Homo sapiens: one gene and its partners. The protein of the gene in region 4 interacts with the protein of the main gene of each other region in a pairwise test. Each region holds a gene or a part of one and is shown on either strand. Other genes may lie near its edges.

The links.
Region 1: the proteins of C1orf94 (region 4) and SMAP2 interact in binary tests that used the Homo sapiens proteins (3 or more experiments, as listed by UniProt).
Region 2: the proteins of C1orf94 (region 4) and RBM47 interact in binary tests that used the Homo sapiens proteins (3 or more experiments, as listed by UniProt).
Region 3: the proteins of C1orf94 (region 4) and BOLL interact in binary tests that used the Homo sapiens proteins (3 or more experiments, as listed by UniProt).

What each region holds. Positions count from the first base shown.
Region 1 is NC_000001.11:40,368,313-40,377,152, reverse strand, and holds the start of SMAP2 (stromal membrane-associated protein 2), read right to left. Parts: upstream 3,427-8,840; 5' UTR 3,033-3,426; coding exon 2,930-3,032; intron 2,521-2,929; exon of another isoform or gene 2,458-2,520; coding exon of another isoform or gene 2,445-2,457; intron 1,407-2,444; exon of another isoform or gene 1,337-1,406; intron 1-1,336.
Region 2 is NC_000004.12:40,430,137-40,438,036, reverse strand, and holds part of RBM47 (RNA-binding protein 47), read left to right. Parts: coding exon 1-266; intron 267-1,389; coding exon 1,390-1,596; intron 1,597-5,174; coding exon 5,175-5,386; intron 5,387-7,900. UniProt on the Homo sapiens protein: Single-stranded RNA-binding protein that functions in a variety of RNA processes, including alternative splicing, RNA stabilization, and RNA editing. Functions as an enzyme-substrate adapter for the cytidine deaminase APOBEC1.
Region 3 is NC_000002.12:197,725,923-197,733,752, forward strand, and holds the end of BOLL (protein boule-like), read right to left. Parts: intron 2,657-7,830; coding exon 2,633-2,656; coding exon of another isoform or gene 2,545-2,632; 3' UTR 968-2,544; downstream 1-967. UniProt on the Homo sapiens protein: Probable RNA-binding protein, which may be required during spermatogenesis. May act by binding to the 3'-UTR of mRNAs and regulating their translation.
Region 4 is NC_000001.11:34,179,254-34,187,153, reverse strand, and holds part of C1orf94 (uncharacterized protein C1orf94), read right to left. Parts: intron 1-7,900.

The DNA of each region.
Region 1 (8,840 bases), 6.2 Mb from region 4:
CACCACACCCAGCTAATTTTTTAACTATTTGTAGAGACAAGGTCACACTATGTTGCCCAGGCTGGTCTTGAACTCCTGGACTCAAGTGATCCTCCCTCCTTGGCCTCTCAAAGTGCTGGGATTACAGGTTTGAGCCACCACACCCAGCCTCTATTCCGAAGTTTAAATCACATACCTTGAAAGTCAACTAATAAATGTTCCTAAATAAGTATAAGAATTTAAAAATAAAAGTCATTGCCAAAGAGTTATATTTTGGAACATTGCAAAAATACCTGCTCATAGGTCGATAGTCTATGCCACATCATCTAACTGGATATTAATAGATGAGCAATCACTCACCATATCCTGTACAGTTAACTTCCAATTTTTTAGGAAAGGACACAGGAATACAGGTAAATAAACTGAAACCCAATTCTCATTTTAGCCAACACTTTTTAAATTCCTCCTCCAATGAAATGTATTTTTTATCAGCGCTAACAGGTAACAATTTATTGATCCAAACGTCTTTTCCTTCAACAATCTGATAGTTGTCCAAATGATCATTATGACAACCAAAATTAGAAAACAGCAGGGGAAAAAGAGTGAGAGGGCTTGGAGGGGTGGAATGGGATAGGTAATTCATAAATTGGATAAACAGAGGCCTCAACAAATGCCTATTTGTCATAATCTAAAGATGACTGACCCATTGTCATCTCATTTTTAATACAATGACCAAGTCCCTGAAGCCACCTGGTAAAATGTAAAACGAACTTCTGAAAAGAAATTGAGGATCCAGGATTCTACCATCAACAGTAGTTAATAAAGTTTACAAGCCAGCAGTTACTAGTTCTCATTAAGAATTAACTGATATTTCATAACCTGATCCCCAGTAAGCTTATTAATAAAAAGCAACGGAAATTTCGGGCTGGGCATGGTGGCTCACACCTGTAATCCCAGCACTTTGGAAGGCTGAGGCGGGTGGATCACCTGAGGTCAGGAGTTCAAGACCAGCCTGGCCAACATGGTGAAACCCTGTCTCTACTAAAAATACAAAAATCAGCTGGGCATGGTGGCGGGCGCCTGTAATCCCAGGTACTCGGGAGGCTGAGGCAGGAGAATCACTTGAACCCGGGAGGCAGAGGTTGCAGTGAGCCGAGATTGCACCATTGCACTCCAGCCTGGGCGACAAAGCGAAACTGTCTCAAAAAATAAAAATAAAAAATAAAATAAATAAAAAGCAATGGAAATTTGGAGGAAGAAGTAGTGAATCAGCCTCTCTCTTCCATGTGCTGTATTTTATTGGAATATGAGTAAGTATAAGGGTAATATGAGAAATGGGGGGGGGGGTTCTAGTCACCAAAATGGCATCTGACTCTCCAAATGCAGCAATGCTCACTCCAGTGGGTTGCTTCACTGTGACTCAAGATCTGTCAAATGAGGACATAAGGGAATTTGAATAAAGCCAAGATACACTCCTAAAATAAACCAAATCTTCCAATAGACCTAACAGAAGATGTAACAAGAATCAAGAAGCTAACCTACTCAACATAAATTGATTCTAAAATACTTTTTAAAATGAATTATTGCTAATGCAAAAATTCAGGAAAGAAGTCTAGGAATTTGTTTTCCTAATGGCACATTCCATTTATCTGTTGGTAGAGGTCACTAAAATACATTACTAGGTGTCTATGTATCCCTCCCCTGTTCTCCTTTTATAACCTTATTCTTCAAAAATAAAAGGTAATTAAGTGAAAGCATCAATTAAATATGTCCTTCCTTTCTCAAAATAGATAAATACGAATATAACTGAATCTTTGTTTTATAGTATATGCCCACTACGCTGTACGGCAAACAACCATGGCAAATCCACTGCATTATGAACAAAAGTAAATTGTCGCCCCCAAAATATAACTATCCATTTCGACCCAACCAAAGGGAAAATAATTTTCCCAATCCTCCAATTATATGCCAAAAGAATTAGAAAATACAGGAAAAAAAGATTCATAGAAGCTTGTATAAATGTCAAGTGCCAACATTTCACTAATAACCAAGATTTCCTATTGTACTGACTTTTAATTGTATCAAATCATGAATCTTCTAGGGCACAGAAAACAAAGACTAAATGGTTCTGCCAATTTACAATGATCATATTTCACCTTTAGAAGTGTAATCGCCATGGAAGCAATGAATTCATCGAATTCATCTTTCTCTCTCCACTGATTAAACGGATCCTGCACTACAGGCATAATCGGCTAGTTTCTGCCACCACTCATACATAGGCCTCCAACGCACTCTACAAGCCAGGGCTACACTGCCTAGAAATCCGCACTGTGTCACTGCATAAGGCAGTTTCCCACTGCACACATCCAGAAGAATAAAGTCACCTAAGCACTCTTGTCAGATCTTAGCAAGGCTGCAAAATGACAGGAGTTGCTAACCAAATAGCAGGAAGCAAAAATCACCACCTTTAAAAATCATTTAAGCAGTTTTCCTTTCCGCCATCTCACTTCCCTCCTCCTCCTCCTCGTCATTCTCTCTCTCTCTCTCTCACACACACACACACACACACACACACACGCACGCACGCACGCACGCAATGCAGTTCATCCCCAGCTTTGCAAGTGACATGCTGGGAGCTCTCTCTGGACAGCCGGCCCAGAACTCATTCAGAGCCCTCAAATACAGACATTCTCACCTGAACACGCCAGGCAACTTCCACCCGCACCATCACCTCCACCCTCCCCGACACACACAGACTCGCCCTCGCAAGCTCTACCCATACCAATCCCCCAGCTGCAGAAAGCCCAGTAGGCTCACTGCAAGCGCAGCACGCGTTACCACTTATAAGCCGAGTTGGGCGGCCTAAGCTTCAGAAACCGCCTCTTCACGCAGCCCACCCCCACCACCCCGGCGCGGCTGGACCCCTGGCCCGCCAGGTGGGATGCGCTACCTTTAGACTGGCAATCTGCACAAAACTTGTTATCCTCCTCCAGCAGCAGGTTGGCCAGGACAGCCTGGTACCGATCCACGTCCTTCACCGACTTGCCTGTCATGGCCAGGGTGCCGGCGGGGGCAGAGGGCGACGCGCCCTCCTCGCCCCCAGAGACCCCTGCCTCAGTCCGGGGTTGAGGACTCCCGGTCCCCCGCCCAGGGGCACCTCCTGAGCGGGGAGAGCCCTCTCCTCCGGCCCCGCCGGACGCCCCTTCCCGGGTCGGGGGCGTCCGTCCCCCACTCCGCAGCCCCTCGGCGCGGCGCCCCTTGGCGGGCTTAGGGACAGGCCCGCCTCCAAGAGAGGCTGCGGGGCCAGAGACCCTCAGCCCAGGCAAAGGCGGACCACGAGCCTCCTGGGTGCCGGACGCAGATGACCCTCTGGCCGGCCTGTCTGCTGGCCTTGCGTCCCGCGCCTCGGTTTCCCTGGCAGCTGCCGTCAGCTCCGCTACCACCTCCACCGCCTACTTCCGGCAGCTCTTCCTCCCCACCTCCACCCTGCCCAGCTCGCGCATGCGCCCCGCCCCCACCGCGCCGCACTGGGCTCTTCCTTCAGCTCCGCCTCTCGGGAACCAATCCGTGGAGAAGCGGGGGGCGGGCCTTGGGTGGGGGCGGAGGGAAGGGGTGGGCACGCCCCCTGCGTGTCCTTGGAAGAGAATGAATGGAGCCTGGTAGAAAGGGAGTGGAGGGAATGGAAGAAAGTGAAGGAAGACAACAACTAACATTTACTGAGCTCTTACTATGCGCTAGGCACTGTGTTAAGCGCTTTGCATGAACTATCCCAACATAATCCTCACAACGACCCTATGATCATCCTTATGTAACCTGAGGGTTGTTGATACCCCAAAGTCCTCCAGCTTGTTTTTTCCAACAGCCAAATATAAGAGTCCAAGCCCCTAACCCAGGATATAGGAACGTCACCCCCTCCCCACATTTTCAGAGGACTCTGGTCACCTCTCACTTGGAATACCTGCTCCCACTAATACTCATTAGCTCTCCTCTGTGACTCCTGCCTTTTTGGATATTGTTTGGCCTGGTGCCCAGACAGTTTGTTTCTTCTTCCATTTCTTAAATTCTCACAAAACAGCGAGTTTTTTGTGGCAGACTTTTACTGAACGTTATTTGGGAAGGGTGGGGGACAGTGATTAAAGCATAGCACACAACAGGCAACTCCTTAAAAATGATTATTAAACATCATCATCCAAAGCCACCGTTGCTACAGATAATTTCTCATTGGCTGTCCTTTTCCTTAGGGATCCACCTGCCATCTGGCTTGTGTTTTCATTCACTCATTCATTCATTCATTCACTGAGCACGATGTTACTGAGAAATTTCTAAGTATCAGGCACTGTACTAGGGGAGAGGGAAACAGCATGATCCGATTTGTGGTTTTAAAAGGTCACTCTGGCTGCCATGGAAATAATTAATCAGGGAAGATAGTAAGCAGATGCTAAGAGTTATCTAAACTCTGGTGAAACCCTCTCCTCCATTTCTTTACTTTCTCCCAAGACCAGGATCCCCTCAAAGCTTTCATCTCATCAGAGGAAAACTAAACATTTCTATTACTTTATTAATCACAACAATTAAATTTTCTGGCTAAGCCTCTTCCCTTCTAGCCATGCCTAGGGGACTTGACTTTTAAAAACACACAAGTTCATTGGGGTGTTTTTCCTCAGAAAACCCATCCAAGTAGGTATTACCATAACCATTTTTCAGTTGAAATAGACAGTCAAGATTAACTAGTTACTGGGTGTGGTGGCACATACCTGTAGTCCTAGCTACTCAGGATGCCAGAGCCAGAGCATCACTTGAGCCCAGGAGTTGGAATCCAGCCTGGGCAACACAGTAAGAACCACCCCTCCAACCCCCAATGTACCCCGTTACCCTGTCTCAAACAACAACAACAACAACAAAACCCAGTTAATTGCGGTGAGTGGTGATTGTACCTTAGTTCAAGCCCTCCCCATCTTCATCTCCTCACTCTGCAAATAGCCTTCCTGCCTTAGTCTAAATCTGGTTAAATTAATCCTTCACCGTGCTCTCTAGAGGGAGCTTTTAAATGCCAATTCTGATGGACTCACACTTCCTGCTTAAAAAATCCTTTAGTGGCTCTCCATTGCCTATGGCAGTGTTTCTCAAATTGTTCCCACCTAGTGAGAGATCTCATGGCTTTGTGGTTAAGCACACAGACTCTGGGGCAAGAATGCTTAAGTTTAAATCTTCAGCTTTTACCACCTATTATCTGTGTGACTTTGAGCAGGTTACTTAGCCTCTTGGTGCCTCAGTTATTTCATCTATAGAATGGGAATGATGATAACATTAATAGTACCTATTTCACAAGATTATTATGAGGCTTAGCTGAGATAATGCCTGTAATATAATTAGAACAGCCCTTGGTAGATAGTGAATGATAGACAATTAGCGCTCTTCACTAAATATTTCTGGCGTTTTGCCTTCTGAGCACATGGTAGGATTTTATTTCCTGGCCTTCAAGTGATTGGGAAAGACCAATGAGTTTGAGCAGAAAGGATGGATTACTTTGTCTCTGAAGCATTTATTTGTTGCTTTGAGCCTCTTGTGCTTCTCTTTCCCTCTGGCATGGCAACTATTGATGCTGAAGATGTTGGTTGCTCTATTAGCCTGGATTTCTGTGTAGCTGATAAACAAGAGCTCTCTGCCAGCCCATAGAGGATAACTTAGCATAAGCAAGAAATAAGCATTGTGTTGCCATTGAGTTTTGTTTGTTTACCACTGTATAAGCTAGCCTATCCTAGCAGATACATCAAGTATTAGCTCTTTTTATTATCATTACTAATAGCAGAGTAAAGTGAGTGCATAGCCCAGGGTCTGAGGATATAAACAAAGCAAACTGCTCCTCCCAAGTACACATTTTTTTTTTTGAAGTCTTGAATTTTGCTTTGACTAGTCTTGCAAAAATGTTCACTCTGTTCCATCATGCACATGTTATCTTATCATAAAACTGTTTCCACATTAGTTATAAAATTTTTTTTTTTGAGACCGAGTCTCGCTCTGTCGCCAGGCTGGAGTGCAGTGGTGCGATCTCGGCTCACTGCAACCTCCGCCTCCCAGGTTCAAGCAATTCTCCTGCCTCAGCCTCCCAAGTAGCTAGGACTACAGGCACGTGCCACCACTCCTGGCTAATTTTTTGTATTTTAATAGAGGCAGGGTTTCACCCTGTTAGCCAGGATGGTCTCAATCTCCTGACCTCGTGACCCGCCCACCTCAGCCTCCCAAAGTACTAGGATTACTGGCATGAGCCACCGCGCCTGGCCAGTTATAGAATTTTCTTTTCTTTTTTTTTTTTTTTTATTATACTTTAAGTTTTAGGGTACATGTGCACATTGTGCAGGTTAGTTACATATGTATACATGTGCCATGCTGGTGCGCTGCACCCACTAACTCGTCATCTAGCATTAGGTATATCTCCCAATGCTATCCCTCCCCCCTCCCCCTACCCCACCACAGTCCCCAGAGTGTGATATTCCCCTTCCTGTGTCCATGTGATCTCATTGTTCAATTCCCACCTATGAGTGAGAATATGCGGTGTTTGGTTTTTTGTTCTTGTGATAGTTTACTAAGAATGATGATTTCCAATTTCATCCATGTCCCTACAAAGGACATGAACTCATCATTTTTTATGGCTGCATAGTATTCCATGGTGTATATGTGCCACATTTTCTTAATCCAGTCTATCATTGTTGGACATTTGGGTTGGTTCCAAGTCTTTGCTATTGTGAATAATGCCGCAATAAACATACGTGTGCATGTGTCTTTATAGCAGCATGATTTATAGTCATTTGGGTATATACCCAGTAATGGGATGGCTGGGTCAAATGGTATTTCTAGTTCTAGATCCCTGAGGAATCGCCACACTGACTTCCACAATGGTTGAACTAGTTTACAGTCCCACCAACAATGTAAAAGTGTTCCTATTTCTCCACATCCTCTCCAGCACCTGTTGTTTCCTGACTTTTTAATGATTGCCATTCTAACTGGTGTGAGATGGTATCTCATTGTGGTTTTGATTTGCATTTCTCTGATGGCCAGTGATGATGAGCATTTTTTCATGTGTTTTTTGGCTGCATAAATGTCTTCTTTTGAGAAGTGTCTGTTCATGTCCTTTGCCCACTTTTTGATGGGGTTGTTTGTTTTTTTCTTGTAAATTTGGTTGAGTTCATTGTAGATTCTGGATATTAGCCCTTTGTCAGATGAGTAGGTTGCGAAAATTTTCTCCCATTTTGTAGGTTGCCTGTTCACTCTGATGGTAGTTTCTTTTGCTGTGCAGAAGCTCTTTAGTTTAATTAGATCCCATTTGTCAATTTTGTCTTTTGTTGCCATTGCTTTTGGTGTTTTGGACATGAAGTCCTTGCCCATGCCTATGTTCTGAATGGTAATGCCTAGGTTTTCTTCTAGGGTTTTTATGGTTTTAGGTCTAACGTTTAAATCTTTAATCCATCTTGAATTGATTTTTGTATAAGGTGTAAGGAAGGGATCCAGTTTCAGCTTTCTACATATGGCTAGCCAGTTTTCCCAGCACCATTTATTAAATAGGGAATCCTTTCCCCATTTCTTGTTTTTCTCAGGTTTGTCAAAGATCAGACAGTTGTAGGTATGCGGCGTTATTTCTGAGGGCTCTGTTCTGTTCCATTGATCTATATCTCTGTTTTGGTACCAGTACCATGCTGTTTTGGTTATTGTAGCCTTGTAGTAAAGTTTGAAGTCAGGTAGTGTGATGCCTCCAGCTTTGTTCTTTTGGCTTAGGATTGACTTGGCGATGTGGGCTCTTTTTTGGTTCCATATGAACTTTAAAGTAGTTTTTTCCAATTCTGTGAAGAAAGTCATTGGTAGCTTGATGGGGATGGCATTGAATCTGTAAATTACCTTGGGCAGTATGGCCATTTTCACAATATTGATTCTTCCTACCCATGAGCATGGAATGTTCTTCCATTTGTTTGTATCCTCTTTTATTTCCTTGAGCAGTGGTTTGTAGTTCTCCTTGAAGAGGTCCTTCACATCCCTTGTAAGTTGGATTCCTAGGTATTTTATTCTCTTTGAAGCAATTGTGAATGGGAGTTCACTCATGATTTGGCTCTCTGTTTGTCTGTTGTTGGTGTATAAGAATGCTTGTGATTTTTGTACATTGATTTTGTATCCTGAGACTTTGCTGAAGTTGCTTATCAGCTTAAGGAGATTTTGGGCTGAGACAATGGGGTTTTCTAGATATACAATCATGTCATCTGCAAACAGGGACAATTTGACTTCCTCTTTTCCTAATTGAATACCCTTTATTTCCTTCTCCTGCCTAATTGCCCTGGCCAGAACTTCCAACACTATGTTGAATAGGAGTGGTGAGAGAGGGCATCCCTGTCTTGTGCCAGTTTTCAAAGGGAATGCTTCCAGTTTTTGCCCATTCAGTATGATATTGGCTATGGGTTTGTCATAGATAGCTCTTATTATTTTGAAATACGTCCCATCAATACCTAATTTATTGAGAGTTTTTAGCATGAAGGGTTGTTGAATTTTGTCAAAGGCTTTTTCTGCATCTATTGAGATAATCATGTGGTTTTTGTCTTTGGTTCTGTTTATATGCTGGATTACATTTATTGATTTGCGTATATTGAACCAGCCTTGCATCCCAGGGATGAAGCCCACTTGATCATGGTGGATAAGCTTTTTGATGTGCTGCTGGATTCGGTTTGCCAGTATTTTATTGAGGATTTTTGCATCAATGTTCATCAAGGATATTGGTCTAAAATTCTCTTTTTTTGTTGTGTCTCTGCCCGGCTTTGGTATCAGAATGATGCTGGCCTCATAAAATGAGTTAGGGAGGATTCCCTCTTTTTCTATTGATT
Region 2 (7,900 bases), on a different chromosome or scaffold from region 4:
GCACTTCACCAGCCGCGAGGATGCCGTGCATGCCATGAACAACCTCAACGGCACTGAGCTGGAGGGCTCGTGCCTGGAGGTCACGCTGGCCAAGCCCGTGGACAAGGAGCAGTACTCGCGCTACCAGAAGGCAGCCAGGGGCGGCGGCGCGGCTGAGGCAGCGCAGCAGCCCAGCTACGTGTACTCCTGCGACCCCTACACACTGGCCTACTACGGCTACCCCTACAACGCGCTCATTGGGCCCAACAGGGACTACTTTGTGAAAGGTTAGTGGGGGCTCTTCTCCTGGGTGGGGCCCCCAAGAACGTTGCCTCCTAGGCAGGGGGCACCAGGGATACCGTGGCTGGCATTTGCTGAGCTGGTAGGTGCTGAAGGCCCTCCCACCCCCGTTTTGGGTTTGCATTCTGGGTCTAATTCTTTCCTGGCACCGAAGGCCGTCACTTATGCAGCACTGATAGAAATACAGATCGTTCTGGGGTGAGCGGTAAAATCACAGGAATATGCAAGTGCTGGAATTCTTCCTTGCCGAGGTCCACCGGGTTAGGGGCTAGTCCACCATTCTCTTGGTGCTTACGTTAAAACCTGCTTGTGATATTAAATCTTAAGATGTTGGTGGAGTCCGTGATTTTTAATTTTGTTTTTTGTTATCACTGATTAGGATATAATGACACCCAGCATAACCTGGAAAATAAGATACATAGGTTCTGGGTCCTGTTCTCTGATTAACTGGGTCTGTGACTTTAGTTAGTCACTTTAATCTCCCCTGGCCTGTTTTCTCAAGCATGAAATGAGGAAGGTGGACCAGCAAATCCCCTTCCAAAGCTAACTTTAAAAAAAATTATTTAATAGTATATATATATGTATTATATATATATATATGTATTTTATATATATATATGTATTTTATATATATATATATGTATTTTATATATATATATATATATATTTTTTTTTTTTTTTTTTGAGACAGGGTCTCACCATGCTCCCCAGGCTGGTCTTGAACCCCTGGGCTCAAGCCATCCTCTCGCCTCAGCCTCCCAAAGTGCTGGGATTACAGGCATAAGACACCACACCTGGCCACAGTTTTTTTTTTGGCGGGGGGGAGGGGGTGGTGGGTAGTCTATGAATGTTTTTCTTTACTGAAATTGCAGATACAATCCTAGAAACTCACCCTGCAAGTTTGCCTCTTGTACTAAGAAGACATGCTTAGGATGCAAATCTAGGCTGAAATAGAATGTTGGAAGCATCTTTACCAGCCTATTAAAGAGCAAAGGTGTAGCCACCTGCAATTAAGACTGGGGCAGTTAAATGCCGAGAACCGAGGGCTGAGGTCTGCCTCCAGCACCGTCACTGTTGGTTGCTGATCATCTTTTGTGTTGTTATTACAAGCAGGCAGCATAAGAGGCCGAGGGCGAGGTGCAGCTGGCAACAGAGCCCCAGGGCCTAGGGGTTCCTACCTCGGGGGATATTCTGCTGGTCGTGGTATATATAGCCGATATCATGAAGGGAAAGGAAAGCAGCAAGAAAAAGGATATGAACTGGTGCCGAATTTGGAAATCCCTACCGTCAACCCAGTTGCCATTAAACCTGGTACAGGTCAGTATGAAGCAGATTGAGAATGCTCCCATTCAGCATAAACCCCAGCCCTTCTGTTTGAAGTGAATCCAAGCGTTTTTCAGGCTCTCACATCTGCACAGGGGTTCCTCTTCTCCTAGGCAGCTAGAGACAAGGCAAAAATAAAGTGACCCCCTGGACCTCCTTATCTAGAACTTCAGGGGATGGTGTAGCTTTGACTATGTTCAAATCAAACTTGCCTGAGTAAGGTTTTTTTTTGTTTGTTTGTTTGTTTGTTTTTTTTTTTTTTTGAGACAGAGTCTCGCTCTGTCGCCCAGGCTGGAGTGCAGTGGCATGATCTTGGCTCACTGCAAGCTCTGCCTCCTGGGTGCACACCATTCTCCTATCTCAGCCTCCAGAATAGCTGGGACTACAGGTGCCCACCACCATGCCCGGCTAATTTTTTTTTTTTTTTTTTTTGTATTTTTAGTAGAGATGGGGTTTCACCGTGTTAGCCAGGATGGTCTCGATCTCCTGACCTTATGATCCACCCGTCTCGGCCTCCCAAAGTGCTGGGATTAGAGGAGTGAGCCACTGCGCCTGGCCATGCAGTAAGGTTTTCAAAGGGCTGTCACCCATTGTTAGGTTTTGTCTCAGTCTGTGGCTAAGTAAGGAGAGTTGTAGGGGGAAGAAAGGAAGAACATGAGGCTCTCTGTATCTTCTATCAGGTAAAACCTGTCTTTTCCTTACTCAGGCCTATTTCTGCCCCGACCATCTGAAGTCGGAGGGTAGAGCTTATTGCCCCATTCTGAGAGTTGTTTGGAAGGGCAGAAAATTCCCCTTCAGGAGTAAGCAGCACCTTTTGTCCCTTGTCATGGTCTGAGCAAATAAGAATGCTTGAGGACAAGGCAGTGGTGAAAGTTTTGTTGTTGTTTGAGATGGAGTCTTGCTGTGTCACCCGGGCTGGAGTGCAGTGGCATGATCTCGGCACACTGCAACCTCCACCTCCCGGGTTAAGCGATTCTCCTGCCTCAACCTCCCGAGTAGCTGGAACTACAGGCGCGCACCACCATGCCTGGCTAATTTTTGTATATTTAGTAGAGATGGGGTTTCACCACATTGCCCAGGCTGTTCTCGAACTCCTGACCTCAAGTGAGCCACCCGCCTGAGCCTCCCAAAGTGCTGGGATTACAGGCATGAGCCACTGCACCTGGCCTTTGCTGAAAATTTTTGCAGCTAATTCCCTGGTTTCTCATTTCCAGCACTCATTTCCTCCTCTAGTTGGATCAGTAGATTGGGAGTAGGGATGCTCAAGTATTTCAAGCCAGGGACCCTGAACTTAGCCTTCACCTCCAGGCCCTACAAACCTGTTTATTAATGTCATTAGTGCCCATGACCATCTAATGTGAGGCCGGTCTTCTGATCCGAACCTGCAAAAAACATTAACTCCATTGTGTGAGTCTATCACAAACTCACGTAGCACCCTGCAGAAGCATCCAAACACATGGAAAGCTCAGTCCGTGGGTAATTGGCACGACCCTCCTCCAGACCCCTCCTGGCTTCAGCAGGAGGAAGTTGAAGAACTGTTTGGAGCCCAGCTACTCTGATTTTCTTCTGGTTGAGATTGTACACTTCTCTCCCTAGCTAAAATAGAGTCAAGGAATCTGTGCATTTGGGACATAGGTACACATTGGCCTCATAGAGTTAAAAAGCATTTCCCCAATTGAACTTTCTTTTGATGATTCTAGTAATGATTTTTTTTTTTTTTTTTTTTTTTTTGCCTGTGTAAAAATTCTGCAATTTCTGCAGTTAAGTGACTCCTTAGACTAGATTGCCTTTTAAATGTCATTGGCACTGTGGGCAAAGTAAAACTGATCCCACAGCTCTGTAACTTAATAAAATAGAGCCTGGATATGGGAGTCGTCGCTTCTACTTGTTGAGAAGGGAACTCCCTTTGGCAAGTTACGGTAGCTTAAGGTTTAACAAGAGAAAAGAACTGTTAAATAATCTTTAACTATGTAAAGTTGTGTCCTGGAGCCTGAGGTAGAAATTCCTGTGGGCTGATAGCCAGAACAATTCATTTACTTCATACAACCCCTTGTAGCTTAAACTCACAACCCTCTCTGGGCCCCATCGATTGGCGTCTATTTCTGATCATCCAGAAAATGAGAACATTGTATTTTAGGAGAGGCACCAGGGTGGTGGTGAAGTATCTGGGCACAAGACCAGTGGAAGATATGGTTGGAAAGGCAGGTAAAAGATTTGATTAAGGTTTTAGGTATATTTTATCGAATGGCTGTACCATTGTTTAGCTTACAATCATTTGTCTCTTTACCTTTGATTGAGTCTGTCCTATTTAGAATAAATGTACCTACAGTTGGAGAAAACCAGAAATAGAAAGATTCTTTGTGTACACATTTCATATTTTTGTTTGTCCTTTCAACACACACACACACACACACACACACACACACACACACCCCCGCCCCACACACACACACTCACACAAAAGGGCTGATATCTTTTCCTTTTGATCTCTTCTTACTGTACCTTGACATTCAATAGCTGCTGTTTGAATCTCTGGTTGAAATCATAATTTTGGACTTTACTTGCAGAAATTCTTTGAATTGGGAGGTCCCACTAAAAGCCAATCACTCCACATCTTCACTACTTTGCGTGGGCATGAGGAAACTGGGGAATGTGCTATTTTTTTTTACCATGTGTTTTTCCTTGAATCGGTAATGTTGAAATCTGAAATACAGGGTGGGGAGGATGTACACAGGTCTGAGTTCTCAGAATGAAACCCTCAACAGCACCTGTTTCTTAAATAGTGGTGAAAGTGAAAAAAAGGCAGTGCGGCTGGTAATGAGTGAGGTGAGTAGGAAGGAACAGGCAGGCCCAACTCTCACAGGCAGTAGGCTTCAAGCCTCTGATCTCACTTCTTCGTCTAAGCCTGTTTTCCCATAGTCAGAGGCCCTTTCTTGCTCAGTAGGACATCAAGAATAACATTCAAACTGTGATTTTTCTGTAGAAATAGTAGAAAATATTGGTGCAAAAGCCTTACTCTAGGGGTCTCTTCCACAACAGGCAGGGGGAGTTACCTGCCACCACCCATCCCTTCCTCTAGGGAGCAGGCATCTGGGTACATGGCTTGTACTGAGAGAACAATAGTGAGCATGGAGAGGCCCAGGACCTCTAAACGTGGTTTTAAAAAATATCTTAGGCTGGGCGCGGTGGCTCACACCTGTAATCCCAGCACTTTGGGAGGCCAAGGCAGTTGGATCGCTTGAGCTCAGGAGTTCAAGACCAGCCTGGGCAACGTGGCGAAACCCTGTCTCTACAACAGCAAAAACAAAAAGCTGGGCAAGGTGGCCTGTACCTGTAGTCCCAGCTACTCAGGAGGCTGAGGTGGGAGGATCTCTTGAGGCCAAGAGATTGAGGCTGCAGTGAGCCTTGATCGCACCACTGCATTCCAGCCTGGGCCACAGAGTGAGACCCTGTCTCAAAAAAAAGAAAAGTTTTTAAAAAAATAAAAATAAAAAATATCTTAGAGCAAGTGCTGGACCCCACTCAGCGACTGAAAGTGATTGACCTGTTTTTCCTTCTTGCTTCTCTTGCAGTAGCCATCCCTGCCATTGGGGCTCAGTATTCCATGTTTCCAGCAGCTCCAGCCCCTAAAATGATTGAAGATGGCAAAATCCACACAGTGGAGCACATGATCAGCCCCATTGCTGTGCAGCCAGACCCAGCCAGTGCTGCTGCCGCCGCAGCCGCGGCCGCAGCCGCCGCAGCCGCTGTCATTCCCACTGTGTCGACGCCACCACCTTTCCAGGTAGAGTTCTTATTGCAGGCATTGTCATTTGTGTGTGAAGCCTCTCTTTAACATGGATTCATTTAGTATTCAGCACTGAGAATTTACTGTGTGCCTGGCTCTCTGTTACAGCTATGGTTGGGTGACACAAAGCATTTTGAATTTGAAGCATGACAGAAAAAAAAATTTTTAATTAATTGTACTACCCTAATAATATCATTGTATTAAGGGTGGTAATCAATATGCAAAAATTATGTGTAATTTTTCACAGTGTCATAATATTGTGCATATATTTTTTTAAAATAGCACTGGATAATTTTTAGCTCATATTGTTAAAGAGCTGACACACAAAGTCCAGGGAGTGATTTCACATTTTCACATTTCAAACTGCAGCTCAATGAAGATTTTTTAAAAAAATGTTAACCCCCGTGTGTGTGTGTGTGTGTGTGTGTGTGTGTGTGTGTGTGTAAAGAGAGAGAGAGAGAGAAAGAACATCTGTATAGATACGTAAAATTTTGTGCTGGGTACAGTGGCTCATGCCTGTAATCCCAGCACATAGGGAGGCCAAGATGGGAGGATCACTTGAGGCCAGGAGTTCAGGACCAGCCTGGGCAACATGGTGAGACACTGTCTCTACAATTTTTTTTTTTTAAATTAGCCTGGCATGGTGGCATATGCCTGTAGTCCCAGCTACTGGGGAGGCTGAGGCAGGAGGACCACTTGACCAGCCTTGAGGTCAAGGCTGCAGTGATCTGTGATTGCACTACTGCACTCCAGCCTGGGCAACAGAGTGAGACCCTGTCTCAAAAATAAATTTACAAAATATGCCCATAATCCTCTCTTCCAACCATATCTCCCACTGTTCCCCTATCTCTTCCCAAACTCATCTTACCATGTTGGCCTCCTTCCCCACCTTTTTCATAGTGTATCCTGGTTTCTTTATTCTCATCTCTTCCATAGAATCTTTCCCATCCACCTCCTAGATAAATTTTCTCTCTCTTTTTTTTTTTTTTTTAGACGGAGTCTCGCTCTGTCGCCCAGGCTGGAGCGCAGTGGCGCCATCTCGGCTCACTGCAAGCTCCGCCTCCCAGGTTCACGCCATTCTCCTGCCTCAGCCTCCCGAGTAGCTGGGACTACAGGCGCACGCCACCATGCCCGGCTAATTTTTTGTATTTTTAGTAGAGACGGGGTTTCACCGTGTCAGCCAGGATAGTCTCAATCTCCTGACCTCGTGATCCGCCCACCTTGGCCTCCCAAAGTGCTGGGATTACAGGCGTGAGCCACCGCGCCCGGCCATGAAATTTTCTCTCTTGTACTCCTGATTACTACATCATTACTTGGCCTATGGCTGCCAGTGTGTTCTATCTCCCAAGGAAAATGAAGCTCCTACAGACCAAAGACTGTGTCCTGTTTCTTTGTATCTTCACCTTATAGGACATAGGGAGGACATCCATTTAACAGAAGAAAATCTTGTTAAAGCTGTTTTCTGTGAGGCAGTGAATCATGAATACCGATCACAAGTACTCAGGCCCAGGATCCCTTATCCAATTGAAAAAGAATTATCCAGGCCACTTTTTTTGATTTTTGATTTTTGATTTTTTTGAGACAGTCTCACTCTGTCACCCAGGCTGGAGTGCATGGCTCACTGCAACCTCAACCTCCCTGGTTCAAGCAATCCTCCCACCTCAGCCTCCCAAGTAGTTGGGACCACAAACACGCACCACCATGCCCGGCTAACTTTTTTATTTGTAGGGACAAAGTCTTGCTATGTTGCCCAAGCTGGTATTGAACTCCTGGGCTCAAGCGATCCTCCCACCTCAAGCTCCCCAAGTGCTGGGATTACAGGCATGAGCCGTTGCCTACATTTTTTAAAAAACAGAGATTCTTAGACTCTAATCCCTGAAGATTCCAATTCGGTCAAACTGGGCTGGAGTCCTAGAATTGATATTTTGCACAGCTCCTCAATGATTCTGAAACAGAGCCAGGCCTGTGACCCTCCACAGTAGGATGCTGTTTACTTGCTTTTGCCCACTCTGAACACTAGTCTTGACTGCATTATTCAGAAAGGGCAGACTAATTGAAGCTTATTTATCTTTCAGTATGTCATTAAGTATTCTTTAACTTGGGATCTCTGAAAGACAAAAAGAGGAATTGGTTGTAAATGACACTGTAGAATAACAACTAAGTATAGTTATAATACTTGTGGACTGACGGTAAATATTTACTATAGCGTAGCAGCAGTACTTAGTGGAATTCTGATAATAATTTCTAATTCTCCTTTAGTAAGAAATTCATGAACACTTGTCTTTCATGTGCACTGTGAGTTCTGGTCAGGTCCAAATTCCAGGCACCATAATCATGTCCTGACTATTTCTGTCTCCTATCAGTCCGCACTGGCTGTTGCCATCAGGGTTTTTTTTTTGTTTGTTTTTGTCTTTTTTTGTTTGTTTGTTTGTTTGTTTGTTTGTTTGTTTTTTGCGACGGTGTCTCGCTCTGTCGCCCAGGCTGGAGTGTAGTGGCGTGATCTCGGCTTAC
Region 3 (7,830 bases), on a different chromosome or scaffold from region 4:
AAAGCAATCTGTTTTAAACTAAATCGTACCTCTTTCCAAGCCATCCTTCTGAAATCAGCTGACAGAGGAAGTTAAAGCCTAATTTCCCAAGATGCTTTATCTTTTGACATGTTACCATCTTTCTATCTCAGATTGTATTAGAGATTTTTGGAAAACAGGCTGCAAAGTTATTACCTTGTGATTTTGGTACATGTACTAATATCTGTATTATCCATTTTATTCTAACACCCAGTGAATTTCAGATAATTTCTTCAGATTTGCCTTTCAAAATGGGTCCTAAGTAAAACCTTAATTTTCAAAATTATCAGAGATATACTACAAAATAGAAATAAATAAAATGGGCTTTACTTAGTATATGTAAGGAGAATTTTTGTCTCTCAATCTATCTGTTTTTAGAAGTAACATGTGTGGGGCTGGGTACAATGGCTCACGCCTGTAATCTCAGCACTTTGGATGGCCAAAGTAGGAAGATCACTTGAGCCCAGGAGTTTGAGACCAGCTTGGGGAACCTAGTAAGACCCTGTCTCTACAAAAAATAAAAAATTAGCTGGGTGTGGTGGTGCATGCCTGTAATCCTAGCTACTAGGGAGGCTGAGGTGAAAGGATGGCTTAAGCCCAGGAGTTTGAGGTCACAGTGAGCCATGATCGCATAACTGCATTCCAACCTGGGCCCCAGAGCAAGACAGTCTCTTAAAAAAAAAAAAAAAAAAAAAAAAAGTAACATGTTTGGGCTATTAAGCTAGGCCATGAAGAAGGCTGTATGATATCCTCCATTTATTCAGATTGTCAAACTCCCAAAATTTTTAGTAGCTTCTCAAAATAAAGCTAAATTCTAAGAAAGTGCATATGTATAAATTATATATGTGTGTGTATATATGCATATAAACATGTATATATGTGTATGCATATAATCTATATAGTTGTGGAAGAAACACACTTGGGTATCAATTATCATCAAAATTCCTTATCCAATAATACATAATTAATTTTTATTAACAGTCCAGGATTTGTTTAGCATCTTGTTTAACATTTGAAAATCAAAACATAAACTTTTTGGTTCTCAAGGATAGTGCTATTAAAAGAAAATCTTGAACATCAGTGGTTAGTAATTTTTTACTTACAGAACAAAAACTTCTGAAATTTCATTGTGGGACTTAATCTATTTACATTCCTAAAACTGAGAATAATTAATGTATTTGAGATCCTTGTATGCTAGTATACATTCATAAGGTTCTACTGTTCTCATGAAGCCATTTGACTGGCAAACATATTCATTACAGTTTCAAAAGAAAACACCCTATTTGACTCACCAGAAAAACCTTTGTGATCTATATCCTACTATTTCTGCTGCTGCTGCTGAGCATGGAATACATGTGGGGTTGAAACAGGGGAGGAAAGAGATAGATTTATTAGGGTAATACCAACTTTTATGGCTCCCCCTGCCCCCTCCACCTAAAATTAGGAGGTCAGTGAAAGAACTGCAAATGAATGTAAAGAGGAATATTTCCTGTACTACTGTAGAAATTTTAGAGATTAAAAACCCCTATGATTTGTTCTGTACCTTTTGAACAATGAATGACACCCCTCCCATCTATTTTCCAATTTTATAGTAAAAATCGGATTTAGAATCAGAATCTAAAATTTTCCTTTGGTGTAAAAAATAGTTTTGCATTTTATGAAAACAATTGTCCTTTTAAAAATTAATCACATATATAATTGAATATATTGGTTGCATATCAGAAGAAAAGGTTTAAGGATTAAAGCATTCAAAGAACAGTAATTTGGTGGAATTTCAGTCAGTGTTATGGGATCATGTCAGAGATGAACCCTTTTATCAAAATTCCAAAGGTGGATCCATATTTTATAAAATTTGATACCAAATAAATTATGTTATAGGAAGATTTCAATATTGTCTCAAACACTGGAGAAAAAATTTAATATAGTCAAATTACATGAAAAGGCAAGAATACTGATCATGTTGATGGTATTTCTAATATTTGGAAAATGTTATAAAAAAGAAGTATAAATACTATTCAGATTCTGAAAACCATGGCAGACGCAAAATTAAATAAGGAGTAACAGTAATAAATGAATTAAAAATTAGACAAAAGCATATTAAATGACAAAACAGCAAAGCAAAAATAGAATTGTCATTAATATTAAATAGTATACTGTTGTAAAATATATGAAAGTATTAAAAGTATTATAATTAAAAATGATTCTTATCCTAAATATGAAAATAAATATCAAATAATATGAAACATAACATCTAATTGTTTGATAAGAAAAAATAACACAAAGCAGAGAAAATAAAAGACACCTCACTATTCCCAATGTGGTTATTATTTATGGAATGGATAAAACATGTTGTAGAAAAGGTCATTACAGTTAGGTTAGCACATAAAAAACCAACATGCCACATCTACCTAAATAATTTTGTAGAACAGCTGAAAAAGCAAATTTCATCAAATTTAGACAGCTTATAGTGGAATAACTGAGTATGGTGAGGTATTAACTAACACTAAGTTTCACAACGGGCAGCTTCTAGCTGGTTCGTTGAAGCTGGATCTCGGCCACGCAAGGATCATTGGACAAGAAATCAGTTGAGCTGGAATAGAGCTGCCCAATTGTCTTAATAATGAATGCTCCACACTGTCTGTTAAGTAAAGAGAAAATATAGATCAGGAAGACTGAATGGAAAAAAAAAGATAAGTTAGAACAGATGAGTACAGACCATCAATCAACATTCACTAAATATTTGCAGAACCTTGGTACCAATTAAATTAGAATGTTACAAAGTGAGAGGCTAGCAATTTAGGAGGGCTCCAGAACTCAGGAAAACCTGCTCTCTGAGAGCTTAGAATCTATATTAGACAATCTCTAGTCTAGTGTTACAGTATAAATGTTGAGTAAATAAAATGAGGGATGGGTCAGCACAGATTACGAGTTACAACATTTCCTTCTATTAGGTGGGTCTTAAAAACTTGTTTTTAAAAGGGGAATAGTATTTTTGGCAGGAGGCTATTTAGAACGCTGTCCAGGGGAGGAGCCAAGATGGCCGAATAGGAACAGCTCCGGTCTACAGCTCCCAGCGTGAGCGACGCAGAAGACGGGTGATTTCTGCATTTCCATCTGAGGTACCGGGTTCATCTCACTAGGGAGTGCCAGACAGTGGGCGCAGGTCAGTGGGTGCGTGCACCGTGCGCAAGCTGAAGCAGGGCGAGGCATTGCCTCACTTGGGAAGCGCAAGGGGTCAGGGAGTTCCCTTTCTGAGTCAAAGAAAGGGGTGATGGACGGCACCTGGAAAATCGGGTCACTACTGCGCTTTTCCGACGGGCTTAAAAAACGGCGCACCACGAGATTATATCTCGCACCTGGCTCGGAGGGTCCTACGCCCACGGAGTCTCGCTGATTGCTAGCACAGCAGTCTGAGCTCTAACTGCAAGGCGGCAGCGAGGCTGGGGGAGGGGCGCCCGCCATTGCCCAGGCTTGATTAGGTAAACAAAGCAGCTGGGAAGCTCCAACTGGGTGGAGCCCAGCACAGCTCAAGGAGGCCTGCCTGCCTCTGTAGGCTCCACCTCTGGGGGCAGGGCACAGACAAACAAAAAGATCAGTAACCTCTGCAGACTTAAATGTCCCTGTCTGACAGCTTTGAAGAGAGCAGTGGTTTTCCCAGCATGCAGCTGGAGATCTGAGAACGGGCAGACTGCCTCCTCAAGTGGGTCCCTGACCCCTGACCCCCAAGCAGCCTAACTGGGAGGCACCCCCCACCAGGGGCACACTGACACCTCACAGGGCAGGGTATTCCAACAGACCTGCAGCTGAGGGTCCTCTCTGTTAGAAGGAAAACTAACAAACAGAAAGGACATCCACACCAAAAACCCATCTGTACATCACCATCATCAAAGACCAAAAGTAGATAAAACCACAAAGATGGGGAAAAAACAGAACAGAAAAACTGGAAACTCTAAAAAGCAGAGTGTCTCTCCTCCTCCAAAGGAACGCAGTTCCTCACCAGCAACAGAACAAAGCTGGATGGGGAATGACTTTGACGAGCTGAGAGAAGAAGGCTTCAGACGATCAAATTACTCTGAGCTACGGGAGGACATTCAAACCAAAGGCAAAGAAGTTGAAAACTTTGAAAAAAATTTAGAAGAATGTATAACTAGAATAACCAATACAGAGAAGTGCTTAAAGGAGCTGATGGAGCTGAAAACCAAGGCTCGAGAACTACGTGAAGAATGAAGAAGCCTCAGGAGCCAATGCGATCAACTGGAAGAAAGGGTATCAGCGATGGAAGATGAAATGAATGAAATGAAGCGAGAAGGGAAGTTTAGAGAAAAAAGAATAAAAAGAAATGAGCAAAGCCTCCAAGAAATATGGGACTATGTGAAAAGACCAAATCTACGTCTGACTGGTGTACCTGAAAGTGATGGGGAGAATGGAACCAAGTTGGAAAACACTCTGCAGGATATTATCCAGGAGAACTTCCCCAATCTAGCAAGGCAGGCCAACGTTCAGATTCAGGAAATACAGAGAACGCCACAAAGATACTCCTCGAGAAGAGCAACTCCAAGACACATAATTGTCAGATTCACCAAAGTTGAAATGAAGGAAAAAATGTTGAGGGCAGCCAGAGAGAAAGGTCGGGTTACCCTCAAAGGGAAGCCCATCAGACTAACAGCGGATCTCTCGGCAGAAACCCTACAAGCCAGAAGAGAGTGGGGGCCAATATTCAACATTCTTAAAGAAAAGAATTTTCAACCCAGAATTTCATATCCAGCCAAACTAAGCTTCATAAGTGAAGGAGAAATAAAATCTTTTACAGACAAGCAAATGCTGAGAGATTTTGTCACCACCAGGCCTGCCTTACAAGAGCTCCTAAAGGAAGCACTAAACATGGAAAGGAACAACCGGTACCAGCCGCTGCAAAATCATGCCAAAATGTAAAGACCATCGAGACTAGGAAGAAACTGCATCAACTAATGAGAAAAATAACCAGCTAACATCATAATGACAGGATCAAATTCACACATAACAATATTAACTTTAAATGTAAATGGACTAAATGCTCCAATTAAAAGACACAGACTGGCAAATTGGATAAAGAGTCAAGACCCATCAGTGTGCTGTATTCAGGAAACCCACCTCACTTGCAGAGACACACATAGGCTCAAAATAAAAGGATGGAGGAAGACCTACCAAGCCAATGGAAAACAAAAAAAGGCAGGGGTTGCAATCCTGGTCTTGGATAAAACAGACTTTAAACCAACAAAGATCAAAAGAGACAAAGAAGGCCATTACATAATGGTAAAGGGATCAGTTCAACAAGAAGAGCTAACTATCCTAAATATATATGCACCCAATACAGGAGCACCAAGATTCATAAAGCAAGTCCTGAGTGACCTACAAAGAGACTTAGACTCCCACACATTAATAATGGGAGACTTTAACACCCCACTGTCAACATTAGACAGATCAACGAGACAGAAAGTCAACAAGGATACCCAGGAATTGAACTCAGCTCTGCACCAAGCAGACCTAACAGACATCTACAGAACTCTCCACCCCAAATCAACAGAATATACATTTTTTTCAGCACCACACCACACCTATTCCAAAATTGACCACATAGTTGGAAGTAAAGCTCTCCTCAGCAAATGTAAAAGAACAGAAATTATAACAAACTATCTCTCAGACCACAGTGCAATCAAACTAGAACTCAGGATTAAGAATCTCACTCAAAACTGCTCAAATACATGGAAACTGAACAACCTGCTCCTGAATGACTACTGGGTACATAACAAAATGAAGGCAGAAATAAAGATGTTCTTTGAAACCAACGAGAGCAAAGACACAACATACCAGAATCTCTGGGACGCATTCAAAGCAGTGTGTAGAGAGAAATTTATAGCACTAAATGCCCACAAGAGAAAGCAGGAAAGATACAAAATTGACACCCTAACCTCACAATTAAAAGAACTAGAAAAGCAAGAGCAAACACATTCAAAAGCTAGCAGAAGGCAAGAAATAACTAAGAGCAGAACTGAAGGAAATAGAGACACAAAAAACCCTTCAAAAAATTAATGAATCCAGGAGCTGGTTTTTTGAAAGGATCAACAAAATTGATAGACCGCTAGCAAGACTAATAAAGAAAAAAAGAGAGAAGAATCAAATAGACGCAATAAAAAATGATAAAGGGGATATCACCACCGAGCCCACAGAAATACAAACTACCATCAGAGAATACTACAAACACCTCTACGCAAATAAACTAGAAAATCTAGAAGAAATGGATAAATTTCTCGACACATACACTCTCCCAAGACTAAACCAGGAAGAAGTTGAATCTCTGAATAGACCAATAACAGGAGCTGAAATTGTGGCAATAATCAATAGCTTACCAACCAAAAAGAGTCCAGGACCAGATGGATTCACAGCTGAATTCTACCAGAGGTACAAGGAACAACTGGTACCATTCCTTCTGAAACTATTCCAATCAATAGAAAAAGAGGGAATCCTCCCTAACTCATTTTATGAGGCCAGCATCATTCTGATACCAAAGCCAGGAAGAGACACAACAAAAAAAGAGAATTTTAGACCAATATCCTTGATGAACATTGATGCAAAAATCCTCAATAAAATACTGGCAAAATGAATCCAGCAGCACATCAAAAAGCTTATCCACCATGATCAAGTGGGCTTCATCCCTGGGATGCAAGACTGGTTCAATATACGCAAATCAATAAATGTAATCCAGCATATAAACAGAGCCAAAGACAAAAACCACATGATTATCTGAATAGATGCAGAAAAAGCCTTTGACAAAATTCAACAACCCTTCATGCTAAAAACTCTCAATAAATTAGGTATTGATGGGACGTATTTCAAAATAATAAGAGCTATCTATGACAAACCCACAGCCAATATCATACTGAATGGGCAAAAACTGGAAGCATTCCCTTTGAAAACTGGCACAAGACGGGGATGCCCTCTCTCACCACTCCTATTCAACATAGTGTTGGAAGTTCTGGCCAGGGCAATTAGGCAGGAGAAGGAAATAAAGGGTATTCAATTAGGAAAAGAGGAAGTCAAATTGTCCCTGTTTGCAGACGACATGATTGTATATCTAGAAAACCCCATTGTCTCAGCCCAAAATCTCCTTAGGCTGATAAGCAACTTCAGCAAAGTCTCAGGATACAAAATCAATGTACAAAAATCACAAGCATTCTTATACACCAACAACAGACAAACAGAGAGCCAAATCATGAGTGAACTCCCATTCACAATTGCTTCAAAGAGAATAAAATACCTAGGAATCCAACTTACAAGGGATGTGAAGGACCTCTTCAAGGAGAACTACAAACCACTGCTCAACGAAATAAAAGAGGATACAAACAAATGGAAGAACATTCCATGCTCATGGGTAGGAAGAATCAATATCGTGAAAATGGCCATACTGCCCAAGGTAATTTACAGATTCAATGCCATCCCCATCAAGCTACCAATGACTTTCTTCACAGAATTGGAAGAAACTACTTTAAAGTTCATATGGAACCAAAAAAGAGCCCGCATCGCCAAGTCAATCCTAAGCCAAAAGAACAAAGCTGGAGGCATCACGCTACCTGACTTCAAACTATACTACAAGGCTACAGTAACCAAAACAGCATGGTACTGGTACCAAAACAGAGATAGAGACCAATGGAACAGAACAGAGCCCTCAGAAATAATGCCACATATCTACAACTATCTGATCTTTGACAAGCCTGAGAAAAACAAGCAATGGGGAAAGGATTCCCTATTTAATAAATGGTGCTGGGAAAACTGGCT
Region 4 (7,900 bases):
AAATATAGAGCCTGGCACCTATAAAGTACTCAAGAAAATGTTAGTTCTGTTTTCTGCAGCCTAAGACAGAAGGAGGAAAAAACCTGCAATGTCTTGAGCTATTGATATTCTGTGCTTCCTCTGATGACCGTGACCCCTTGCTTCGATCCTGGCTACCTCTGGGTGGTGGCAGTTTTATGGCTTATTCACCATTCACTTCCTTATTTATTCATACCCACTGCATAGCCACCAAGTGCCAGGAACTCAGCTGGGCACTGGGGAGACAAAGATGAGTAAGACACAGACCTTGCCCTTAAGAAGCCCATAGTGCAGTAGCGGAAGAGGAATTGTTGCCACAAGGCAGCACACGATATGTGCCAGGTGCCCACCACCTCATCAGAATCCCACACTGGAACTGGGCTGATAGCCCCGATTAAGGGGCTGTGTCCTTCCCTCTGGCCAATGGTCAAGAAGAGAGCTGATTTTAAACAGATTCTTCCATTCTATCGTCCTCAAAAGATCTATCCCATGTAGCTCTCAGAGCTGGGGAAGCATTTGTCTCTTATGATGACCCCTTCTGCTTTCTCTTAGAAGACAATATGAGTTATGAAAACCGAATGCTATGATCTCCCTTTATGCCCTGGCTGCCAAGAATCTCAAACCAGATGCTGTTATCAGTTGAGCAGTTTCCCTTCAGCCTAAGTTTCCTGGCATATATATCTCCTTGTCCCATATCAATCATGTCCTGTTATTTTATCCATGATAATGACAATGATGATGGTGGAATGGTGATGATGATGATGAACATCGAGTCCTTCTCTTATTCCCAGTGCTGTGTGAGCTCTACATATATCATTTCATTTGCTTCCATAGTAATCCCTTGAAATAGTCGCTGTGACTTTTCCCATTTTTTCAGATGAGGAAAATAGGGCACAGAAAGTTTGGGGAACTTGCTTACAGCTAGAAAGTGTGCTGGAACTCTAATCCACCTGTCTCCTTATTTTTTGTTATCTGGGCCACCTTAAAACACTTAGGAAAGAGGTGGGACATAGTTGTTTATTTCAATTAAAAAGAGGAATGTGGGAAAAAGAGAAAGAAAAATGTTGAATGATGTGAGCAACAAAGAATTCAGAGGACAACACACTTATTCTAGGTCCTTAAGGATGGATAAGATTTAGATAGACAGAGATATGGGAGAAGGGCATTCCTGGTAGTGGAATAACATGAGCAAAGGCAAGGTGACATGCACCTGCTGGTAGCTCTTGTTGGTTTATAGAGCATGTGCAGGAGACCAGCAAGACGTGCATCTAGAGATGGAGGCAGGGCCACTACAGAGACCCCTGAAAACCAGGCCCAAGGGGCCAGAGGACAAGGCGAGCCATGAGAGATGTCTGAGCAGTGCTGTTGACCTGCTTCAGAAGATGAAATTGGTGAAGGGTGGAGGGCATCCTGGAGGGAAAGGCACCCAATGCAGTGAGAAGAGATGTGGTGAGGGTGGCAGAGGAGAGACGAGCAGGGAGGCAAGGCACCAAAGGCCATCATGAAGGGGGACTGCCAGGACGTGTGGCAGGCTGGAGGAGGGAAGAGCCAGTGTCTGCCAGCACTAGCTCACTTGACAAACAAGAACAGGGGTGCATCAGTGTCAATGGGACTGGGGTGCTGAGACCCAGCATTGGGAAGCTCAAGAGAGGGAAAGGCTGGGTGCAAGGGCTCACGCCTATAATCCCAGCACTTTGAGAGGCCAAGCCAGGTGGATCACCTGAGATCAGGAGTCCGAGACCAGACTGACTAATATGGTGAAACCCTGTCTCTACTAAAAATACAAAAATTAGCCAGGCATGGAGGTGCATGCCTGTAATCTCAGCTACTTGGGAGGCTGAGGCAGGAGAATTGCTTGAACCCGGGAGGTGGAGGTTGCAGTGAGCCAAGATCGCGCCACTGCACTCCAGCCTGGGTGACAGAGCGAGACTCCATCTAAAAAATAAAAATAAATTTAAAAATAAAGTAAAATAAAGAGAGAGGGAGACACTTGCTTAAGGGTTGGGTCTCAGAGCAAAGGGTTCCAACTTGTGGCCCACGGGGTCTCTGAAATCATTCCCAAATACTGAGAGATGTGAGGATGTGTTTCAGACAAAAGCTGCACAGAAGCTTTTTCTCAGATTTTCAAAGAGGTATTGACCCCTCCAAGAGGAGAAAACACTAGTTGAGATTAGACTCCAAAGATCTTCAGAGCTGGCTTCTAGTCTGAGACATCAGCCTGAGTTTCCGTATCTGAGTCTTGTCTTTATCACTCCCATCACCAGGTTTCAAGCTTTTTAAAGAATAATGCTAAAAAAAAAACCAAAAAAAACAAAAGAGGCTATGTATTCCAAGCAACTTTTCCAGAGAAGTCGGGTTCACCTAATTGTTTAAATAACAGTAGCACAAAGAGATGTTTGTTGGGAGAGCCATTCAAGCAAGGAAGCCGAGTGGATTCCCAAATATCACTTGCTCACCAGTGTGGAGAACTGGCCAATGGAAGCCAACAGTGAAAGTTTACCAAAATAAGTGCAAAAAAGCCTTCTTCCTTCTTGCAACAAATAGCCTCAGAAAGCTGCCAATCAATAAACCACTTCTGTTTTTCAAAAAATGCTTAAACAGATTTCTTTTATTTCAGTAGATTTATCTCCCTACCTGAGTCTGGCTTGGAATAATGCTCACCAAAGCCTTTCCACTCTGCAGACCAAGTTTGTTATGACAGGTAAATGGGAAAGTCTTGGGTGCTGACAGAGGGCCTGGAAGCATCCAGGGAAGCCAACCACACCCAGCAAGCTCGAGCCACCTTCTCCCGGTCACTAACACATGCTACACTTCACTCCCATGTAACTTCTCATCTTTCCCTGCGCCTGCTGCTGGGCTCTTTCCATAGGCTGTTCTTTCTCTCTTCTCAAGACCTAGCTGGGGGACATAACTATGGAAACCTTTGCAGTTATTAATCATGACATCCCTGCTACCTGCGGACTACACCCGCATCTTTCATCACACAGTGCAGGGGTCTCATCTGTTGCTGCTTCAGATTGCTTCCCTCAGAGGAAGACTTCCCTAAGTACCAAGCCCAGTCCAGTAGTCAAGTACAATGTTCAGTCATGTGTCCCCTCAGTGCGCTTCCATGGCACTGGCACTTCATCACCAGAACACTTACTATAGTGTGTTGTGATCTGCCTTTTGCAAGATGTTGAAAGTTCATAAAGGAGGTCAGAGACTGTCCCCAGCTTTTCCACCATTGTATTTTTTTCAGACATTTCAGTAATAGGTGCATACTAATTTTTTTTTTTTTTTGAGACGGAGTTTTGCTCTTGTTACCCAGACTGGAGTGCAATGGCACAATCTCGGCTCACTGCAACCTCTGCCTCCTGGGTTCAATCAATTCTTCTGCCTCAGCCTCCTGAGTAGCTGGGATTATAGGCACCTGCCACCACGCTCAGCTGATTTTTGTATTTTTAGTAGAGACAGGGTTTTACCATGTTAGCCAGGCTGATCTCAAAACTCCTGACCTCAAGTGATCCACCCACCTCGGCCTCCCAAAGTGCTGGGATTATAGGCATAAGCCACCGCACCTGGCAATATTTGTTGAATGTCATTGTTGTCAGATGTATCTGTGTTCATGCCACCCACTAGACTGGGAGCTCTTTGAGGAAAGGCTTCTGTTCTGCTTATCTCTGTGTCCCTGGGACCCATCATACAGCCTGGTACTGCGAAGGCAATTGTGTTTGTTGAATGAATTCATGAATGAAGAAATGAACAAATGTCATTCTGTAGTTAGGGCAACGGAGTCAACAGCAAATCCAAAGACCTCATTCTGAGGCTTTGAAGTTTTAGAGATTAGGGGAATGAATGAATAAGTAATCCTTGAATAAGTGGCTTGCCACAATTCTCTAAGCCCAAACTTAAGACTAACTAAAAGATAACTGAACCAGATTTTGGAGTTAAATCAGCACTAGACAGAACTATTGATTTCTCCCCCAAAACCCATTGCTCCCCATTTCTTCCCCACCTTTGTAAATGGCACACCGTCCAACCAGGGGCTCAAGCTTGGAATACATAGCCTCTTTTATTATCATTATTATTTTGAAAGCTTGAAACTTGGTGATGGGAGTGATAAAGACAAGACTCAGACATGGAACTCAGGCTGATGTCTTAGACTAGAAACCAGCTCTGGAGATCTTTGGAGTCTAATGCTCTTGGCTAGTGTTTTCTCCTCTTGGAGGGGTCAACACCTCTTTGAAAATCTGAGGAAAGCTTCTCTACACCCTTTTGCCGGAAAGACATCCTCCCAGCTCTCAGCATTTGGGGAATTACTTCAGAGACCCCATGGGCCACAGGTTGGAATCCTTTGCTCTGAGGCCCTACACTCCCCACCTTGAGTTTGCCAGTGTTCGGTCTCAACACCCCAGTCACATTGATAGTGATGCATGCCCCCATCCTTGTTTGTCAAGTGAACTCGTGCGTGAAGCAGAGCATGAGCCTCAATGTGTCTGTTTGTGTACCCAAATCATGAGTAGGTCCATTGGCTCATCTTAAAACACACAGTTGAATCCTCCACTTTTTCCATCCCTACTGCAGTCACTCCTACCCAGCCACTGCCACCATTAGGCCTCCCCTGGACTCTGACAGTATCTTCCCAGAGGCCTCCCACTTCCTCTCCCACACACTTACAAACCATCTCCACACAGAAGCTGGACAGAGATTCAAACATTAGTGAATCTGTTCATGTCACACCCCTTCCTAAAAACCTGCAAAAGTGTTCCATAACATGTGGAATAAAATCTGAACTCCCCGCAGTGATCCTCCAGGCCTCCTGAGGCCTTGCCTGCCTGTCTCTGTTATACTTATACCATGGCCATGTCCCCATCCCTCCTGACTCTCCCGTCTCGCTGTCCCTCTCAAAGCTCACTCCCACCTCACAGTCTTTGCATTTGCTTTTCCTTTTGGTTTTGTTTTGAGACAGGGTCTCACTCTGTCGCCCAGGCTGGAGTGCAGTAGTGCAATCTTGGCTCATTGCAGCCTCGACTTTCCTGAGCTCAAGTGTTCCTTTCGCTTCACCCTCCCGAGTAGCTAGAACTACAGGTGTGTGCCACCATGCCCAGCTAATTTTTGTATTTTTTGTAGAGATGAGGTCTTGCCATGTTGCCCAGGCTGGTCTTGAACTCCTGGGCTCAAGCGTTCTGCCCACCTCAGCCTCCCAAAGTGTTGGGATTGCAGGCTTTAGCCACCATGCCTGGCCCTTGCTCTCCATTTTGCCCAAATGTTCTTTCCAGAACTTCCCTTGACTGGCTCCTTCTTAGAACCCAGGTCTCAGCCCAGATAATCACATCTCCTCAGAGAAGCCTTCCTTGACACCCAGACTAAAGGAGCTCTTCCTATCACTTCCCTCTGCTCTATTTCCATTATCACAGTTGTCACTGAAATTATCTTGTTTATTTTTGTGTGTTTCTTATGGGTCTCCTCCACTGGGAATACCATTCTTTTCACATTCTGAAGATATCATAGCTTTTGTATTTACTTGCTTCTTTTTTCTCCTATACTAGAATGTGAGCTCTAGGAAGGCAGGGATTAATGGAGTTCACAGCTCCATCCCCCTAGTTTCTCACACAGTTCTAGCATATAGTAGATGTTTAATAAATATCTGTTGAATGAATAATTGAATGAATGAATTAAGAGATTGAAAATGTGTCCACAGAGTGAAAGTCGACTTGGGGAAAAAAGTGAGTGTAGTATTGGTTGTCATTAACAGGAAACAGAATGCAGACAGGGAGGATCAAATCTGCATGGATTGGATCACCCCTGGATTATTGTACTTGGCTTTCAAAGTTACACTGCCACAAGGACCAACAGTGTGGACAGGAAACTAACCAAATTGGCACATGGGGAGAAACTTAGAAAACCAGAGGTGGTTAGCTTATAGAGACAAAAACATTCTGGGAGGAATATTGTTGCTGTCTTGCTGTCTTTCACTATCCAAAGGGGTATCGAAAGAAAAAAGACATAGATTTGGCTTGGAGTACTAAGGGCAGAATCCAGATCAATGGGAATTAGTTTGATAGAGACATATTTCAGTGATAGAAAGCAAAAGGTATTTTGAGGGGGTTCATAGCAAGGGAAGGGGCAGCAAAGGGAAGTGGTAAGCTCCCCATCTGATAAACTGTACCAAGTGGTACAAGTGCACCACTTGGCAGGGACAGTAAGGAGGGGATTCGAGCAGCGGAAGATGGCTTCAAAAATCTCTTTCAAATTTGAAATGTCTAGGTTCCTATGATAAATAGGTGCAGAGTCAAGAAAAACAAATTCTGGCCAAAAAGAATTGTAGAATGCACTTACCTATCTACCACAATACAAGAAAACACCACCAAAACCAGGTCTACAAATTAAGCAGCAGAAAGACCAGCTGAGAGATATCTTGTGCACCTGAAGGCATTCTAGAAATAGTAAGAACAGCTCCCTGGCTTTTCACTCTGTGTGTGATCATTCAGTATATGGGACTCCCAACTATTTTGACTATTCAAAGATGCCCCAGATTCTAAGACAGGACAGCCGACATTATTGCCTCAGGGCCAAGGCGGTCTTGGGTTTCATTTCTGAAACTCTACTACTTCCTAACTGTAGGAGCTTGGGCAAAGAAATTAACCCCTCCAAACCTCAGCCACGTTATCTGTAAAAGTAATTTCACTTATAAATGGAGGGGTGGAGGTAGCAATTGAAACCAGAATGGCACAATGTGATAATTATTGAAACTCAGTGATAGACACATAGATATTCACCATATTATTATTCTATGTGTTTGAAAATTTGCATAATAAAAAGTAAAAAGAGATGGAAAGTTTAAAAGAGTACCTACCTCATGCAATAATTGTAGAGCTTAAAGAAATGATCACATCTGAATTGCAAGGAATTTTTACAAATCTGAATTATTACCATAAATGTTTAAATATCCCATTTAATCATTCCAACAACCCTACAAAATGTATAGTATTAATCTCCATTTGGCAGATGAGGAAACCAAAGTTTAGATAAATTAAAGAGTAACAAATTCTTCAAATGGCATGGGGCTGAAATGGAATCTGAAACCAGAGTTATCTGACTCCACCAGCACACCGCCTTTATTTTAAGAATAGCTCATTGTGTTCTATTTGGTTGACAATTAGGATGTCGTTTATTCGTCTAAGTCATTGGTTTCCTATCTCTTTTCTCAATAGCAGAAACATGTTTTTCAAATTCAGCCCTACTCAGAACTCTAGTAAGTAAAACTGATAAAAGCTAAACAGCTCTGGCTGAAATGGATTTTGGGGCCCAGCAACCAGCCCACTTGACTCCACAGTGACCCCTGAAGCACCTTGAGGTATATGGAGCATAGTGTGAACCCCAGATTGAAGCCAACAACAACAAAAACAACAACAACAACAACAAATCCCAACCTGAAGAAGTACATGTTAAGAGCAGCCTGATTTGTATAATGCATCTTTCATTTCCCTGTCTCCCATCACATTGGATCCTCATTATCAACTCTGAGGTAGACAAGGCAGCACATATCACCCTCAATTTGCAAATGAGGAAGTAAAGGCCAAATGGAGTTAAGCAGCTGGCCAAAGGTGCACCAGTTCAATTTTCAGCCAAGTGCAGACTGGAAGTCGAGTCTGTCTCCATTAACTCTGTGTGACCTGGCAAAGAGGATGCCATCTACTGGAAATTGCTACTGACCCTTGGTCCACAAAGTGGACAATCAGCTTCTTGGCCATTGAGAGCAGAGCACAGCCCCATGGGCCCTCCTGCCAAGGCCCTGTCCCAGAGCAGATGGCAATGAGCAGGGGAGAAGGGCTCAGTGCCACTGAAGGGCCTGACAGCAGGATTTTAGCTGTAGATGGGCCATTCCTGTCTGAGCCTTGTC